Linked DNA regions of Homo sapiens. The protein of the gene in region 1 interacts with the protein of each later gene in a pairwise test. Each region holds a gene or a part of one and is shown on either strand. Other genes may lie near its edges.

Region 1 (3,544 bases):
TGGCAGTGAGCCAATGTCACACCACTGCACTCCAGCCTGGGTGACAGAGCAAGATTCCATCTCAAACGAAAGTAATTACTTTCAATGGCAAAAACTGCAATAAGTTTTTGCACCAACCTAATATAATGCACTGTATTCAAGCAGGACAGACTGTCACCCGACCAGGAAGTAGGTGGCTTCTTATATTCATGAACCAAACCTCTCCAGCCCTCTGTGGTCACACTTGGTGTCTGGAATTCCATCACCAGGGGATTCATTCTTTGCTGTCTTCTCTGAGAGGTGGATAAAACCGGGAGTCATACTTTTTTTTTTTTTTTTTTTTTTGAGACAGAGTCTTGCTCTGTTGCACAGGCTGGAGTGCAGTGGCACGATCTCGGCTCACTGCAACCTCCACCTCCCAGGTTCAAGCGATTCTTCTGCTTCAGCCTCCTGAGTAGCTGGGATTACAGGTGTGCGCCACCGTGCCCGGCTAATTTTTGTATCTTTAGTAGAGATGGAGTTTCCCCATGTTGGCCAGGCTGGTCTCAAACTCCTGACCTCAGGTGATCCACCCGCCTCGGCCTCCCAAACTGCTGGGATTACAGGCATGAGCCACTGCGCCAGGCCGGGAGTCATACTTTTATGTAGATTAGTCCTTTTGGATTTTTCCTCTGTGGGAGAAAGCAGCTTGCAGCAAGCAGATACGCTAAGGGGAGGATGATGGGGCAGGATTGAGGCCCCAGACAAACCGCAGGCCCCGGGTAACACAGCTAGTCGGGCACACATCCTGCAGCACAGGCCCGCGGCGCTGGGGAGATCTACATACGGCATGGAGCCAGGCCGGGACGCAGGCCCGAGTTAGCACGGCTGGCATTGCTGCCACTCCCTTCAGGGCAGGGAGGACAGTCATCTAGCGGCCTTCGGATTACACAAACCCTTTCCTTGGCGGGGGTCTCCCAGGGTGGTCAGGTCCGGACCAGGCAGAGGCCTTGCACCTGTGCTTCCCAGCCCCCCAGTTTTGCGCGGGAACTGCAGGTGCCAAACCCGGAGGCAGCAAAAGTGCTGCCCAAACGGGGATGGAGCCACCCGGGGCGGGAGAGGCCGGGGGCATCTAAGGCCGTGTAGCTCCCATGTTTAGAGGCTCCCAGTTATTTACAAATGAATAAAGGCCAGAGGACACGCGTTTGGGTCAACTTAAAGGTGCGCGTGCAGTGTTCTGTGACCTCCGTGGGATGCGAGGCTGGCGGGCCGGAGCGCCCCTGCCGGGGATTGGCCGGCCGCGCTCCGCCGCAGACTCCGCGCCGCCGGGCGCTCACTTCGCCACCTGACGGCAACGGCGGGAACCGCAGGAGCGCGCGGACCACCCCCCACCCACTTCCCCCGAGCCCCGCCGGCCCCAGCTCCCGCTCCCCAGGAAGCGAAGGGTTAAGCTGTCAGCGGCGCGATGTTAAACAGGTGTCAAAGGCGCCCCATATATCTGCAGATTGAAATCAAATTCTTCGCCGTATAAAAAGATAAATTACCCAGGCGCTGCCGAGCGTCCCACTCATCACGCCAGCGCCAGACGGCAAGCAATTTTTTTTTAATGTGCTAACGACCTAATCAAGCAATCAAGTCGGAGGAGATTGCAGCGTGACCCGGGCAGCCATCTGCCGCCGAGCCCGCATGCATTTCCGCGCCGCGCGGGGCGGGGGCCGCGAGGGGCTGCCGGGGGGAAGGGGGAAAATCCTAAACAAATTAACACCCAATTTTCCCCGTCTAATTAGTTAAATGAGAAGAGTTGGGGGTCCCCGGGGAAGCGGGGGCGCTCGCGACGAGGCGAGTGCTGCCTCCCCAGCATTAATTAGTGCGGGTCAATGCCGCGGCTCCCGGGAGAGCAGCCGCTTTAATTTCCCGTGGTATTTCAGTGCCTGAGGCCCATCGATTCAAACTGAAATTAACTTATTTTTCAATCAGCCCAGGGCTGCCCCTGGGGGTGACTCTTCTTTTGCCGCCTCCTGAATAGAGCTGGAGCAATTTTTCATTAAAAGCTGATACCTCTGCCGCGGGGGAGGGGGCCCGGAGGGAAGGGCGGCGCCGGCCCAGACCCAGGCAAGGAAATCGGGAGGAAATGAACAGATTTCCCAAGCCCGCCTCGGTCCTCCCCTCCCGACTCCCTCGACTTCCCTGGGGCGACTCGCTGCCCCCGGGGTCTGAGCCTTTAAGGACTGTGAGGGGCGAGAAGGGAACCGCCAGGCTTGGGGCGCACCATTACCCCGCGGGCCTGGACCTCCTTGGCGGACAATGCGAGGGGCTCCCGGCTCTGTCAGCTGCGGGAAATCTCCGGAAAGCTGCTCTGGGGGACCAAGAAATGTTCCCTCCTCAAACTTGGCAGGGATTCTGGGATCCTAGAATGGGCTAGAGTGCTGCAGACACCCCAGGGTACCCCACTGTCATTCAGACCCTGCACCAATCAGCTTTGGGGCCAGAGACACATTCGCTAGTGCTTCCTCCGCCCCCACTCCCTCCCAGGTCCCTCCTCCCATTTGCTCCTCAACCCTGGAGAATGTTATCTTCATCCCTGGTCCAGCTCCCCAAATACTATTCAGAGTTAGGCTCGGAGCTGTGGGGAGCAGGTACCTGGAGGGCACATGTGGTTTGGCAGAGCTTAGCTGGGACAGGGTGGAGGAGGCAGGCTGACCCAGGCCTCCGAGGGGAGTCTCCCTCCCTGAGTTCCCAGCCTTCCTGATACCTGGGTGAAGTGCCCCTAAGACTGTCCCCTGCCCTTTGTCCCTGATCCCTCACTCACCTGCAGCCCTCCTGGATGGTTGTGACTCTGGGCTTCTGGCAGAGAGGAAGCCCTGAGCCAGAGACACTGCTAGTCCAGTGCTGGGAAAGGAATTTGTCCCTCTGCAAATCAGAAAAAAAGATTTATATGCTGGAGGTGTGAACACATGCAAGAGAGCCATCAGTGGCAGGGCAGGCTTCTCAGCTGCAAACAGTCGATGACACTGGGTCCTGCGCACCTGCAAGACCCTGTCCAGGAAGCATCCATACCCCATCTCCCTAGAACTACCCATGATATTCTCATAAGACTGATGTCCTCCTTCTGAATACTCCCTGAGCCTGGAGGAACACAGAGGGCACCATGGAGTAGGCGAGCTTAGGTTAAGGACGCCCTGCTGGAGAAATCTTCACTCCAAGCCTACAAGGGGTAAGGGCCTTGGGCCCAGCACCTCTCAGAGCAAGCCTCTGACCTGTTCTGTGCACCTGCAGGTCTGGTTCCAGAACCGTCGAGCCAAGTGGAGGAAGCGGGAGAAGTGCTGGGGCCGGAGCAGTGTCATGGCGGAGTATGGGCTCTACGGGGCCATGGTGCGGCACTCCATCCCCCTGCCCGAGTCCATCCTCAAGTCAGCCAAGGATGGCATCATGGACTCCTGTGCCCCGTGGCTACTGGGTAAGAGCCCGCACCCTCCTTGGGGTCCTGCCCTGCGGTGAGGAGAGCGGGCTCCTTGGAGGAGGGGACAGAGCCTTGAGGCAGGGGCACTTGGGCCACAGCAGCCTAGCAGGAGAGAAATTCTTCAAA
Region 2 (3,649 bases), on another chromosome or scaffold:
GCCTCAGCCTCCTGAGTAGCTGGGATTACAGGTGTGCACCACTACATCCAGCTAATGTTTATATTTTCAGTAGAGATGGGGTTGCACCATGTTGGCCAGGCTGGTCTCAAACTCCCAATCTCAGATGATCCGCCCACCTTGGCCTCCCAAAGTGCTGGGATTACAGGCGTGAGCCACTGCACCTGGCCCTGTTGCAATGTTTTTCCAGGGAGGGAAAGAGTTATCTGCATTTCAGCCTGTTCTGTTTTGGGAGTACTGGGGCTGAGGAGAAAGGGCAGGGCCATCAAAGGGCTCACATTGTTATTGTAGTCCGTGGTGGCAGCAGCACCCAGAACCTCGTAGTAGCGCTGCAAGAAGGGCTGGAGGCGACTCTCCAGCCGCTGTAGCTCCTGGAGCACCTCGACATACTCCGCAGGGGAAGGATGGCTGTGGACAAACCCAAGGGGCAATGAGCCAAAGCCTTCCTCAGATTCCCACCCTCACAGTCAACAGGGACCACATGTGCCCTCTTTCTCCCTGGTCTCCCAGAGCCCTGGCCCAATCCTTCTCTGGACCAGCAGAGCTTCTATTCTCTTCAACCTCCGCCTCCCAGGTTCAAACGATTCTCCTGCCTCTGCCTCCCAAGTAGCTGGGATTAAGTTGCCTGCCACCACACCCGGCTAATTTTTGTTTTTTTTTTTTTTTTTTTTTTTTTGAGACAGAGTCTCGCTCTATCACCCAGGCTGGAGTGCAGTGGTGCGACCTCAGCTCACTGCAAGCTCCGTCTCCTGGGTTCACACCATTCTCCTGACTCAGCCTCCCGAGTAGCTGGGACTACAGGTGCCCGCCACCATGCCCAGCTAATTTTTTGTATTTTTAGTAGAGACGGGGTTTCATCATGTTAGCCAGGATAGTCTCGATCTCTTGACCTCATGATCCACCCGCCTCGGCCTCCCAAAGTGCTGGGATTACAGGCGTGAGCCACTGTGCCCGGCCTGTATTTTTTAGTAGAGACAGGGTTTCACCATGTTGGCCAGGCTGGTCTCGAACTCCTGACCTCAGGTGATCTGCCCGCCTCTGCCTCCCAAAGTGCTGAGATTACAGGCATGAGCCACTGCACCCAGCCAAAGCTTCTATTCTTTACTCCCACCCATGAGAGGATAGGGAGAAGAAAATGAACTGCTCCCACCCTCCCCACCACAATCCTGCACCTACAATGGTGAAAGACTAATTCTAAGAAAGAGAGCAGGCCTTCGTGAACTCAGAGGAGAATTCCGATCAGGCTCAGGAGATACCATTTGGATTTCCTTGCCGTAGGGAGAGCAGCAGTTCTTCTCAGCTGCCTGTCCTAGCGTCATTTACCTATACCGAGAGAGCCCCTCCTCGCCCCTCAATGCTAACCCTTCAACTAAGACCTCCAAGTAATCCTTTCCCTCCCTTGCCATGGTTCATTTCCTTCTCCCCATACTTCACTTAGGATTCCCCACCCACTAAAGATTCCCTCCATCTCTCACTTGGGTGCATTTGTTTCCGGGGCAGGTGTTGGGCCCGCTGGGGCTGGGCCAGGAGTGAGCTCCGGGTTCTGGGCTGGGGCACGCTCCTCCACTTCTTCTGCCTCCATGGGCTCCCGGGGAGGTGCTTCACTTTCAACTGGTTCTGATGTTTGAGAGCTCAAGGCTACTGGCTCCGGGGTCACAGCCGGTGGCTGCGGGGGCGGCTGACTGTGCTGCGGTTGGGGCCCTCCTCGACACTGAAGGTAGGGGAGAGTCAGGATACCAAAGGCAGGGTAAGACTGCTGCAGAGGATTACTCTACAGGAGACTGAACAGAGAAAGTATCCTAACTAGACTCCCTGAAGGCATGGCTCTGCAATTTTATCTCCGACTCGCTAGCAACTAGCATAAGACTGACACAAATTAGATGCATAATAAGCATCTGTAATTTTTTTTTTTTTTTTTGAGACAGAGTCTCGCTCTGTTGCCCAGGCTGGAGTGCAGTGGCATGATCTCAGCTCACTGTAACCTCCGCCTCCCAGGTTCAAGAAATTCTCTTGCCTCAGCCTTCTAAGTAGCCAGGCCTACAGGCGCGTGCCACCACACCCAACTAATTTTTGTACTTGTAGTAGAGACAGGGTTTCACCATGTTGGCCAGGCTGGATTGGAACTCCTGACCACACGTTATCCCCCTGCCATGGCGACCCAAAGTGCTGGGATTACAGGCAGGAGCCACCACACCCGGCCACAGCATCTGTAATATTTGTAAATAAATTTCTAACAAAGAGTAGAGATTGTGGTTTCCTTTCCTCCACAAGTTGGTTTCCCAGCCTCCACAAGTTAAGAGAGTAGAATCCTTTAATTGAAAAGAGATGCCATGAGACTAAGTCTGAAACAAACTCCCCAGATACCAGGCACCAAGAGGATTGGCAGAAATGAGAGAGCCTCACAAAGATACTTTTTCTGCCCAAAAGAATGAATACTGCAGAGAAGACTAGATTATGAAGGCCAAACCCTGTGGATGTGGCCAGTGAAGCCCTAACTCCCAGGCTGAGAGAAAAGGGAGAGGGAGGGTGGAGAGAGACCCTAGCCAGCCTTGCCCACTTACCTCCATCCGGGATAGTAAGGTCTGTATATCCCTGATCATGTGCTGAGCCATCACCAGCCGTACCCGGGGCTCACTCTACAATGAGAGAAGGTTTATCAGGGTAGGTTACAGATGAAGCCATGAGTTCTACCACCTACTAAATCAGGTCCCAGCCATCTCTCAGCCAGGTCCACCCCACCTCCCAGCCTCCTTCTCCCAGATCCCCTTCCCTGACCCTCGGAGGCCCCTCAATACCTGAATCGGGGCCTGTTCCATGTTGATGTGAACATCCACAGCAGAGCCGTCACTCTGGGGAAAGGGTAAGGGAAGTTGTTCTGGGAGAAGCCAACACTAAGGCCTCCACACCTCCAATTCATTCCCTGGAGCCCTACCTCCTTTTCTCCTTAAAGACTGAGACCAATAGCACACCACAGGGCCCCCTGAACCCAATCTAAAGATGGAAGCATCTATCTTATTAATTCCCTGGTGCTACCACAACCAAAGCTACCCACAAAAGCCCTCCCCTGTGGAACATAAGCTTACAGGAAGATTGAAGGTTCCAACCATGACATAGCTGTTGGCATTCCGGTCATGAACAGAGGCCCCAGGCCCCCGAGTACCAGGGGGGGATCCCCCACCATGAGTGGCTGAGGCAGACCCCGTCCCAGAAGATGCCCCAGAAGGGAGGTGAGTCTGAGGAGGAGCCCGTTCCACCAGGTGGATAACCTTTCCCCCAACATCTGCAGAAAAATAGACACACACCAAAACATAGTATGAACAGGTAAACCCATGGCCTCAGTTCATCCCTCCAGACAGTAGCCCCAACCTCTGAACTGCCTCCCCAGCCCCCTTACTGTATTCCTGAAGCTTCTTATCATCTTGCAGAACTCGTCCCTGGTAAATGAGCCGTTGTTTTTCAGATGGGATGCTGACAGAGGCAGCAATGTGCTCCTTAAACTCTTTTACATTCATCTGAAAAGAAGAGGCATGCACAGGAATGGAAAGAATGGAGGAAAGAGGAAGAACAAAGACAGACAACCGAGTTGTGGAGGTGAGGGGTAAAAACCACCACAGAATCACTACCCGTTTGT
Region 3 (3,649 bases), on another chromosome or scaffold:
GTAGTAGACCTTAAAAAATGGTAAATGCTAAGATGAAAAGAAATGCAAGGAATTGGAATTAAGGGCTAGTGATAGGCCCAATCATTGACTGTCATCTACTCTGATATAACGAAGGAAAACATACAAATATTAATTTAAATTTTTGGATTATATAATGTAGTGTTTTTCCTTAGTGGAGATTGTGGTTTAAGCCAGCTTTATCAATTTGGAACATTAACATACGTGAGATAATCAGCACCCTTACTGTAACATAATTTCTATTTTTTTTCTTTTTTTAGATACACAGTCTTGCTCTGTTGTCTAGGCTGGAGTGCAGTGGCATGATCATGGCTCACTGTAGCCTTGCAGCCTCTCGGGCCCAAGTGATCCTCCCACCTCAGCCTCCTGAGTAGATGGGACCACACGTGTGCACCACCACGCCTGGCTAATTTTTTTTTTTTTTTTTTTACTTTTTTACTTTTTGTAGAGAAGAGGTCTCCTCCTGGTCTTAAATTCCTGAGGTCAAGTGATCCTCCTGCTTTGGCCTCTCAGAGTGCTGGGATTATAGGCCTGAGTTACCATGCCTGGTCTATAATTTACGTTCCTAAGAGATGTTTTACATTTTTGTATTATTAAAACAAAGTGGGAAAAGGGCAATAGGTAAAGGACTTGAAGGTTTCAAAACAATAGAAAGTTTTTGTTTTTAGTACAGCTGGAAAAATAATGTTTCACTGGAGCTGACCATTTAAAAAGTTTGCTTCTTTATTTACCCCTTATTTTCTACCCTTAGAGCCTCTTGGTCATTCTTACTACTTTTTGCGTTGATCTTCCAGCTTTGAGTGCAGCACATTTCACAGCCACATCTAGAAAATGGAAGAACTACAGGAATAAATATGAGCAGATTAGTCAGTGAGCTGCTTGAGACAGCTCAGTATAGCATTTTGTTTGGAGTTGCTTTTTTTGGTCTTGCTTAATTTTGTTATAAGCAATAGTTATTTGCATTTTATAAATTTTATTCCTTAATCAAATTATGTATGGCTTGTAATATGAAAACCAGTGCTATGGGAAAAATGCGTGATTAGTGGCAGATACTATGATATGTATTGTTCTAATTAGAAGTGTTGTCACTCCCTGAGGGTGATTTTAAGTCTTTCCCTTATGACAGGTAAACCTAAAGAATGTCATCTTCATTGATGATTAAATTTTATTTCTCTTTTTGTCCCCAGGAATAGCAACAACTATAACTACAGGATTAACTCTGGGTAAGAATTTTTGAGGAAAGATCCCAGCTCTGTGGTCTTCTAATAATTTTAATAAATTGAGTGATCTTTCTACTCTTCTCTCTTCTAATATTTCACAGAGCTGGAGTATAGAAAAAAGTGTGTATCACAGATGGTGACTTATCGGAGAACCTTTCAGTATTTGAGTAGTGAAAAAAAGGAATGACTTCGTAGAGTACTTTTATAATTCAGAAAAGTATTTTAAATGCAGAAATTGTTTTTAATGTGGAAGTTTATTTCATATTACTTTTTTAGTCATTTGACTCCAGTTAGTGGAAAAAACACCAAACTTTAAGCCAGAAATTTTGGAATTAAGCCTCTAAAATACTTGTGAGGCCTTAGGTAATGTTTGGGGCTTTTAGTTATCTATAAAATTGAGGGTATTGAACTAATATCCAAAGACATAATACTTTCTGTAGTGTTAACGCTAAAGGGAATGTGAATAACTAGGGTTTCAGCCAGCTTTCAATCTGGATGGCAGTAAACAATGTGAAAGGAAAGGAAAAGGAAATGAAAGAACATTCAGAAGCTCTTAAATTGAATTTTAAGTTAAAGGAAAGGAAAAGGAAATGAAAGAACATTCAGAAGCTCTTAAATTGAGTTTTAAGTTAAGGATTGGCAGACTTTCTTCATTTGGATGCTACACCTGTTATTAACAGAAAACAACACATCTGTTTATCAGCAAAGTTTTGGACTGGATCAGCTGCAAACACAAGCAAGTGAATCTTCTTGTTTTCTTTTTTGCTTTTTTTTCCCCTATCAGACAGGTTCTTCCTCTGTTGCCCAGGCTGGAGTGCAGTGGCACCATCACAGCTCACTGCAACCTCAAACTCTTGGGCTCAAGCGATCTTCTCTGGGGTTCCCAAGTAGCTAGGACTACAGGCACATACCACAACCCTTGGCTAATTTTTTTTTTTTTTTTTTTTTTTTTTTTTTAGAGACGGAATTTTGCTCTTGTTGCCCAGGCTGGAGTGCAATGGTGCAATCTTGGCTCACCGCAACTTCCGCCTCCTGGGTTCAAGTGATTCTCTTGCCTCAGCTTCCTGAGTAGCTGGGATTACAGGCATGTGCCACCACGCCTGGCTAATTTTGTATTTTTAGTAGAGATGGGGTTTCTCCATGTTGGTCAGGCTGGTCTCGAACTCCCAACCTCAGGTGATCCACCCGCCTTGGCCTTCCGAAGTGCTGGGATTACAGGCGTGAGCCACTGTGCCTGGCCTTTTTTTTTTTTTTTTTTTTTTTGGTAGAGACAAGGTCTCAGTATGTTGCCTAGGCTGGTCATGGACTCCTAGCCTCAAGCCACGTGCCCTCTTTGGCCTCCCAAAGTGCTGGGATTACAGGCTTGAGCCACACCAAGCCTGAGTCTTGTTTTCTGAGGTTGTAACCCCATACGTGATTTCAAAGCACTGCACTCTGGCAGGAACTTCTAGTTGTGATCAGGGCAATCCAGAAGCATAGTTTCTGGCTTCTTTTCTCTCAGTGATTTCAGGTTAAGTCATGCAGGTCATTCATACATTTCTTTATTTAATATTGTTTGAGCAGTTACTACTTCCTAACCATGCAGCCTTGTGTCTACATAATGCCTTGAACATTGAATATTGTGGCACTGCTGGTGAGGATGGTCCTTGATGATGACATTGGGAACTGCTAAGGGTTGGAGCAAGACAGTCAGTCTGTTGTGAGGTGAAAGGGATAGGCAGGTATATTAACATGTTCTTGTATAATCCGATAAATGTCCTAAAAGATGTAGAGGCACCATGAAAGGCAGAGGAAGAAAACAGTATGGTTTACTTTATGGGCAGGAAGCACTTCAGAGAGAGGAGTGGCAAGTGCAAAGGCCCAGTCATAAAAGCGTTCTGGGAAATATGAAGTATTTTGGTTTTGGAGCTTAGAAATCAGAGGTGGAAATGGTGGGCAGAGTTGAGAATTGAGGAGCAGGTTGGGACCAGATAGGAAAGGGAGGTATATGTCGTGCCTTTAGACTCTATTTTAAAGACAATCTAGAGCTAATAGGAACCTTAAATTGGGCAGAATCACCAGGATATTTGTGGGGGTTTTTTGTTTGTGTTTTCTTTTTGTTTTTGTTTTTTATGAGACGGAGTTTTGGTCTTGTTGCACAGGCTGGAGTGCAATGGCGTGATCTCAGCTCACCACAACCTCTGCCTCCCAGGTTCAAACAATTCTCCTGTCTCAGCCTCCCGAGTAGCTGGGATTACAGGCATGCGCCACCACGCCCAGCTAATTTTGTATTTTTAGTAGAAACGGGGTTTCACCATGTTGGCCAGGCTGGTCTCGAACTCCTGACCTAAGGTGATCTGCCCACTTTGGCTTCCCAAAGTGCTGGGATTACAGACGTGAGCCACGGCACCTGTCTTTTTTTTTTTTTTTTT

Evidence for each region.
Region 2: the proteins of VSX2 (region 1) and BAG6 interact in binary tests that used the Homo sapiens proteins (3 or more experiments, as listed by UniProt).
Region 3: the proteins of VSX2 (region 1) and NUP58 interact in binary tests that used the Homo sapiens proteins (3 or more experiments, as listed by UniProt).

Annotation. Positions count from the first base shown.
Region 1 is NC_000014.9:74,256,368-74,259,911, forward strand, and holds part of VSX2 (visual system homeobox 2), read left to right. Parts: intron 1-3,234; coding exon 3,235-3,415; intron 3,416-3,544.
Region 2 is NC_000006.12:31,646,098-31,649,746, forward strand, and holds part of BAG6 (large proline-rich protein BAG6), read right to left. Parts: intron 3,531-3,649; coding exon 3,413-3,530; intron 3,299-3,412; coding exon 3,102-3,298; intron 2,868-3,101; coding exon 2,814-2,867; intron 2,655-2,813; coding exon 2,580-2,654; intron 1,730-2,579; coding exon 1,494-1,729; intron 427-1,493; coding exon 297-426; intron 1-296. UniProt on the Homo sapiens protein: ATP-independent molecular chaperone preventing the aggregation of misfolded and hydrophobic patches-containing proteins.
Region 3 is NC_000013.11:25,308,042-25,311,690, forward strand, and holds part of NUP58 (nucleoporin p58/p45), read left to right. Parts: intron 1-1,205; coding exon 1,206-1,241; intron 1,242-3,649. UniProt on the Homo sapiens protein: Component of the nuclear pore complex, a complex required for the trafficking across the nuclear membrane.